Homo sapiens: one gene and its partner. The protein of the gene in region 2 interacts with the protein of the main gene of each other region in a biochemical or structural test. Each region holds a gene or a part of one and is shown on either strand. Other genes may lie near its edges. The genes, in order: MET and SH2B3.

What was found.
Region 1: the proteins of SH2B3 (region 2) and MET form a complex in vitro, tested with the Homo sapiens proteins (one large-scale study listed by BioGRID and IntAct).

What each region holds. Positions count from the first base shown.
Region 1 is NC_000007.14:116,675,184-116,679,000, reverse strand, and holds part of MET (hepatocyte growth factor receptor isoform b preproprotein), read right to left. Parts: intron 1-3,817. UniProt on the Homo sapiens protein: Receptor tyrosine kinase that transduces signals from the extracellular matrix into the cytoplasm by binding to hepatocyte growth factor/HGF ligand. Regulates many physiological processes including proliferation, scattering, morphogenesis and survival.
Region 2 is NC_000012.12:111,412,264-111,416,080, forward strand, and holds part of SH2B3 (SH2B adapter protein 3), read left to right. Parts: intron 1-3,817. UniProt on the Homo sapiens protein: Links T-cell receptor activation signal to phospholipase C-gamma-1, GRB2 and phosphatidylinositol 3-kinase.

The DNA of each region.
Region 1 (3,817 bases), on a different chromosome or scaffold from region 2:
TGTCATGGTTGCAAGATTTTAGACCTAATCAGATTTTTGAGGATGCTGTTTATTGACGCTTAGCAAAAACCAACTTCCTATTTTTTTCTGGAACAAAAAGGCCTTACACAATTTTAGAGATCTCTTGGACATCAAAGAGCTTAGAGGGACATACAGTTTGTGAGTAATGATTTAAGATTTAGTGAATCAAAGACACATGGATTAAATTTCCCTTAAAAGACCCCTAGGTTTAAAATTTAATAGCTAAAATGCTGGTCTAGATACACTCTGGTCCCAATGCTGGTCCCAAGCAAAGCCAAAACCTATTTTTAAAGCTAGGTTGAATTGTCTTATGGACCCAAACCTTGGCTGGGTTTTCCTTTCCCACATGATTAGGCCTCAAAGGAGGCAACCTATCTCTAATAAATTTACCACTTCTCTTTTTCTCTGACTTGCAAAGACCATATTATTTCAAAGGTCTCAGCTTTGAATGTCTTTCTTTACATTTTTAATAAAATATTAAAAATTAGAAATCTTCCACGGTCTTATCAAACAGTTATTCCCCAAGTCATTCTTTTTTAAAAAAAAACATACATTTTCAAATTGGACCTGAGAGTCTAGGTGCTGCCTCAGAATTCCAACTATTAAGGAGTAGGAGACCATTTCAAAACAGGAATAGACCACTGATCTTAATATGTATACTGTATGTGCACTGTTTCATGATATATTATTATATTTGCATTTAAAATAGTAGGAAGAAATACAGTACATAATCTCCCTTTCTAACACAGTGGCCTTCTGGAGGGCTGCTAGCTTGGGCATTTCACTGAGATTTTAGGATTAAAGGAAACAAATTAGTGCACAACCTGTGAGCTTTTATTCCTTTGGAAAAATAGATTTTAACACTGATCTGATTGCTTTTAAAGGGCACTGGAAACCAGGAGGGCAGTGCATGTTTTGAATTTCAATGGCAGGGTAATAACAACGGGTGAAGTTCAGTCATTTCCAGAGACAGAGACAGAGAGAGAGAGAGACAGAGAGAGAGAGAGAGAAAGACAATATTCCAAAGGGGGAGTTTATCCTGAATCAGAGAACTTGGAAATGAAATTGATGCATAAAGCCATGATGGATTCAGGTTTCAGAAAACTACTACTTCAGTTTAAGAATGAAATAACTAGATTACCCTTTAGTTTAGAAACGTACATAGTTTGATGTAAAGTATGTGGGCTGATGAGTTTAGAAAAATAACCACGTGCCAATAGGAACTGACATAAAATATTGGTTTTAAAAAATTTGTTTAGTTAATTTTCTGAGAATTTTAGAAAATAAAATATTTTGTAGAAGCAGTCCTGGGGCTCTCGGGCCATGCATGCTGCTGCAATTGGGACCATCAGGAGCCCAATCTGGCTTGCAGACTTTCTGCCACTGTAAGCTGTATGGTGTTTTAAAGACACTGAGTCAACATTTTAAAATTGGGAGAGTCCTAGCTTCTCTTGAAAATCTGAAAGATACTACCACATGGGCCCATGCCATACACTGAGCCTCACAACAGCTCTAATCACGCCAAGCAGTGACTGCCCCTCTGCTTTTCCTAAGCAGTTTGTCAATCCCTAGTGAAATGGTTAGTTTTCCTCATTTAAGTTACCTGTTTGCAAATCTTGATACAGGATATAAATAGGGGAATAAGGGAAAAGGAAGAAAAGAGGAAGAAAATCCAATGCAGTGACTTAATACTGGAAAGGAAAAGGAAGGAGAGCGAGGGGGAAAGAAAGAAGTGCATAGCAGACAGAAGCTGCACACCATCAGCAACTGCCTCTTGCTGTCTTTAGATTTATACTATGGAAGGGATCAGTGAAAAAAGCCATGGGTATCCTTCTCAACAAATCCCACTGTGACAGGCTCACAGTGTGGAAAATAAGAAGGAAAATTGTCTGAATGGAGCAATATCTCTGATAGAGGATGGAGTATGGGATGGGACCAGGCGGATGCAAAACAAAACAAAACAAAACAAAACAAAAAAACAAAAAAAAAAACAAAACAACACTCTGGGTCTTCTTCTTCCATGTCTCATAAACCAAGAGATGTGGGCCACTCCTGTATCTTCATCTTTAACATGGTAGCTAATGATGGCAGGCACTGTCCAGGTATTTCCCTACAAAAACAGGGGCACTATTCAGGTATCTCCCTCCAAAATCAGGGAGTCTATGGACAGTTGTGCAAGCTGTGAACTGCACAATTTCAGGAAAAACAAGATGAGAATAGCACTCCTGAGAAGTGCTCCTCATATGCGCCTGGCTCACTTCCTTATCTCCTTCAGATTCTAGCCCAAAGCCCACCTTTGAAGACAAGCCTTCCCTGACCTCACTATTGAGTTTTTCAATCACCATCCCACTCTCTCTTATCCTTGACAGTCACTATTCTCTTTTCCATTTTATTCTACCTTGAAGCTATTATCATCACCTGACATACAACACATTTCAGTTATGTATTTCTTTATTGTTTGCCAACTCAATAGAACAGAGTGTCATGAGGTTAGAGGTTTTCATCTGTTTTATACTCTGTGGAAATGCCAGATTTTAGAACTATGCCTCGTAGGTTGTCAAAAAATTGTCCTGAATGAATGACTAAATCCTCATTCACATTCTTGGAGTACAGGAACCTGGCTTTCACGATAACTTGTGATTCTCTAAGCACATTTCATAATTGCTATCCTTAATTATATTAGGAGAGATACATTTTCAAATTCTATTGCCCATTATATAATCGCCTGTGGGCCCTATAGCTACATAATTTATTATAGAAATTAAAATCAATGGGAGTAACCTACATAAACATACTTGCACACATTTATGCAATCACAGAGAGAAATATGTGTACCTGGGTATGTGATTACAAAGTTAACTTTTTTATTTCACTGAGCTCATACCTCCTGCTACAAATGCCACACGTGATTTTTTCTCTCAATTAAGTTTTACAGCTTATAAAAGCACTTTTTTCATTTTGTCCCATGAAAAGCAAAGTAGTCAGATTTTACTGGATGTTTTTATTGAAACAAATCCCAAGCGGAATATACTAACCTGTTTAACACAGCTGAAAAGATATCTGAGAATGGGCTTTCTGATAGAAGGATAGATTACAAAATTATTCACGGCTCTTAATCTGATAACAGGAGCAGAATGCCCCACACATATGAATGAAACCTTTTCTCGGTATGTCTCACTACAAAGAAAAGAAAAAAAGAAAAGAAAAGAAATTAAAAAAAAAAAAGAGAGAGAGAACTGGAGAAAGAGAAGGTGACAAAAACTCCAGGGACTAGATATGTTATATTCATCATTTACCACTATCTTAAGCATCCCTAATGATGCCTCCATGGAAAATGTTTCCAATAGTTGATGGCTGAGGAAAGGTGGTATGGTGCTATTGAAATAGCATGGAGCTAGTCTCAAGCTCAGTTTCCTTGTCTATAACATAAGAATGTTAAGATGTTATCAGACTTGCCTATCTTGTAAGGTCGTTTTGGTATCAGAAAGGTGATGTATGCAGAAACAGCTTGAAAATGTTAAGGTTTTTAAGTTCCAAACTTTGATTTTTAAAAAAAAATTCTATTATTTCATAGCAAATAGGATGATTTTGAAAGCGTTTCTCATGTGATGTCCTCTTAATAATTATGAATTTGTGTTCATTTAATATGTGATATTTGTCTGTGTATCTAGATCATAAACTTCTCAAGGGCAGATTCCATTTCTTTCTTTTAAAGAAAATGCTGTAGTACCTAGCACATATGATACTCTACCTATAGGTCCTAGCTATTTTTGGTCAGGCAAATGTGGATCTAGCA
Region 2 (3,817 bases):
TGGCCTGGCTGCCCTCCTGGCCAAAAAACCTCCCTGGTACAGTCCCTTCCATAGCTTGGGCTACAGCTGACTGCTCTGGGCTGGCAACTTCCTGCCCGGAGCAGCCTGAGCAGCCGCCTCTCCCCTGAGAAGATCTTTTGTTCCAGCTCCCCATGACGCCCCGAGCCCAGCCCATGAGGCAGGCCCCCCTGTGGCTTCCCATGGCGGGCGAGCCTGACTCCGAGGCTGGAGCTCTTTTCTAACAGTGATAGTAAGAAAATAGCAGCAGCCACTTATGAGCCCCATGCCAAGCACACTGCAGACATCAGTTCTTTTTTTCTTATAGAGATATGGTCTGCTTCTGTCACTCAGGCTGGAGTGCAGTGGTGTGATCACAGCTCACTGCAGCCTCGACCTCCTGGGCTCAAGCAGTCTTCCCGCCTCAGCCTCCTGAGTAGCTGGGACTACAGGCCCAGCCACCATGCCAGGCTAATTTTTTTGTATTTATAGTAGACATAGGGTTTCATCATGTTGCCCAGCTTGGTCTCGAACTCTGGGGCTCAAGCAATCCTCCCGCCTTGGCCTCCCGAGGTATTGAGATTATAGGTGTGAGCCACTGAGCCCAGCCTCTCATTTTTGTTTTCTTCCTTTTGCCCTGTGACAGTTTTCCTGATCATTGGTGGGTTTGGGACCTGGACAGAGCTACTGCCGACTCCTGACTCCAGCTGGAGCTGAATGAGACTTTTATATTCTCTCCTCTGGGACTCACTCATTCATCCAATAAGCATTCATTGGGAAGTGAGCCCTTCTTGTGTGCATTTAGGCACTGATCAGACATTTTGGGGGTCCCTTCTGTGTGGGGGTCTCTATAATCACTAGCTATGGGGCCGCTCTGTTTCAGCTTCCCCATCTGTAAAATGGAAGTAATCGTTGGACCTACCTCCTAGGGCTGTTAGGAACCTTGGAAGAGGTAATATTTTGTAAAAGTAGTTAGAAAAATGCCTGATATGATCTTGGCATGGTGCCATGAGCCTGTAGTTACAGCTACTCTGGAGGCTGAGGCAGGAGGATCTCTTGAGCCCAGGAGTTCGAGGCAGCAGTGAGCTATGATTGTGCCACTGCACTCCAGCCTGGAAGACAGAGTGAGACCCTGTCTCTAAAAAGAGAAAGAAAAATGTCTGATGTGTAGCAGACGCTCAGTAAATGCCATTGTTCTTATGGGAGGACTGGTGGAAGGGGCCCAATGAGGGGGGTTCCCAGCCGTTGCCTGGGCAGTGAGGGACCTGGAGTGGGCGCAGCTGTTTTGAGGAAGGCTCCTGCCAGGGTTTGGCCCTGCAGTTGGGCTTCAAGACTCTGACATACAGGACTGTGCGGAAGGTAGGACGGCCCAGGGGGCGGGGGAGGTTGGTTCATGCTGGTTGCCACGCATCTGCCGGGAGAGCAAGAGTTTGCAAATCCAACTGATCTCTTGCATTCATATGTTCATTCATTCAAGAGGCATTCATTGAGCTCCTGCTGTATGCTAGGAGCTGGAGATGAAGCAGGGAATGACTCATGGAACTCAGTCTGTTGGAGAGATAGTCACTAATAAAAGCATCCTGTCAAGTGATAATGTGTGACCAGTGTGCTGAAGGTCAAGTTCAGTTGGGAGCTCAGAAGAGGCTTCTCTTATGTGCAATTGGAAGCAGACAGGGCAGAGGGAATGGCTCATGCCAACACCCACAGGCAGCTGGCGTGACTAGCGGCAGATCGTGTAGGTGGGGCAGGAGCCTGGGTCTGGAATCACAGCTCTCTGGGCATCCTCCAAGCCACGAGGGCAGCGCCTGTCTCACCTGTGTCAAGGCTGGGTGTGGGGAACAGTAGGATTGACCAAGAACAGGTGCCCTTATGCAGGGGTTAGACCCTCCCCCCTTCAGGGACAGGAAGAACATGGTGGCCAAGGGCAGATGTGGCCCCTCCCTCTCCCTTCCCATCTGCCTGACAGCTTTTAGTGACTACTTACTGTGTGCAAAGTACCTACTGTGTGCGGGTCCCAAGGACCCTGTGATGTACAAAACTGTCGACTGTAGCAGGGCACGGTGGCTCATGCCTGTAATCCCAGCACTTTGGGAGGCCAAGGTGGGAGGGCTGCTTGAGCCCAGGAGTTTGAGACCAGCCTAGGCAACATAGTGAGACCCCATCTCTACAAAAAATACAAAAATTAACCAGGTGTCGTGGTGTGTGCCTGTAGTCTTAGCACTTTGGGAGGCCAAGATGAGGATAGCTTGAGCCTGGGAGGTCTAGGCTGCGGTGAGCCATGATTATGCCACTGCACTCCAGCCTGGGTGACAGAACAAGACCCTGTCTCAAAAAAAAAAAAAAACATTGTCGACTCTGCATGGCCCCCTTCCATCGAGGGCAGAGGCACCTACTTGTGCTTTTTGGGGTTTCTTGTGGAGATCGGCTGTGGGGGTTCCACCATGGCCTCATGTGACAGGGGCACCCTTTGTTGCCACTGCCCTGCAGACATGCCCAGCGGGACATGGCCACATGCAGAGACGGTGCCTGTGGAGGGGTGTGTGGCAGAGAGAACCCCATTTGTAGGTTCGCATCTCCACCTTGCATTCCCTTTCATGGGTTCCTTACAAGGTGGATGCCATGCTGCCACCTGGTTGGCAGATGAGGAAATCCAGGTTCAGAGAGGTTGAGTCAGGCATCAGGAGCCACACAGCCAATACGTGTCCCCCTTTGTAATGTGAGCCCTGGGAGAGCAGTGTTCGTCTGTGCTGTTCACCGTGGTATCTCAGGGCCTAGCCTGGTGTCTGGCACACAGTAGGCCCTCAGTAACACCTGAAGAGAGGATGAAGGAGGGCGTGATTGGAGGCAGCAAATGTACCCAGGCCCCTGTGGCTCTGTAGCTTGTGTTGTGCAGCCACTACCCCTGCCCAGGGAGGGAGTCACTGGAGTGGCACTGCTGTTCATTCAGGGTGTGCTGATATCAGGGATCTGGGGCCCAGTTTTGTGCCTGAGTAGGGAGAGCATTTCTTCTCCATCTTGAAGAGCGACATGGATATGTGGTCTCCAGCAGGGGCCCAGGCCCAGCGAGGGTCAGGAGGAAGGAAGGATGGTGCCCACAGAGGTCCCAACTGTTCTGCACCGTGGACAGCAGAGGGGTGGGGGGTCTCAGTGCCATTCTGGTGATGTTGTGCCTAAGGAAAGGCCCTCTGGCCATGGGAGGAGAAGGATGCCCCAGTTGAGATGGGCAGGCAAAGGTCTGCTAGTCCTGAGGGTCCCCTGTCAGTGCAGGAAATCCCTCTGGACCCCCGTGACTTTTGTTAATTTATTCCTTTTTATTTTTTGTTTTATATTTATTTTTGTTTTTGTTTTTGTGTGTGTGATTTTTTTTTTTTTTTTTTCCAGGACAGAGTCTCGCTCTGTCACCCAGGCTGGAATGCAGTGGCATGATCTCAGCTCGTTGCAACCTCTGCCTCCCAGGTTCAAGTGATTCTCCTGCCTCACCCTCCCGAGTAGCTGGCATTACAGGCACACACCACCACACCCAGCTAATTTTTGTATTTTTAGTAGAGGCGAGGTTTCACCATGTTGGCCAGGCTGGTTTCGAATTCCTGACCTCAGGTGATCCACCCACCTAAGCCTCCCAGAGTGCTGGGATTACAGGTATGAGCAGCTGCCCCCGGCCCATTTATTTATGTATTTATTTATTTATTTATTTATTTAGAGACGGAGTCTCGCTCTGTTGCCCAGGCTGGAGTCCAGTGGCGTGATCTCGGCTCACTGCAAGCTCCGCCTCCCGGGTTCATGCCATTCTCCTGCCTCAGCCTCCCCAGTAGCTGGGACT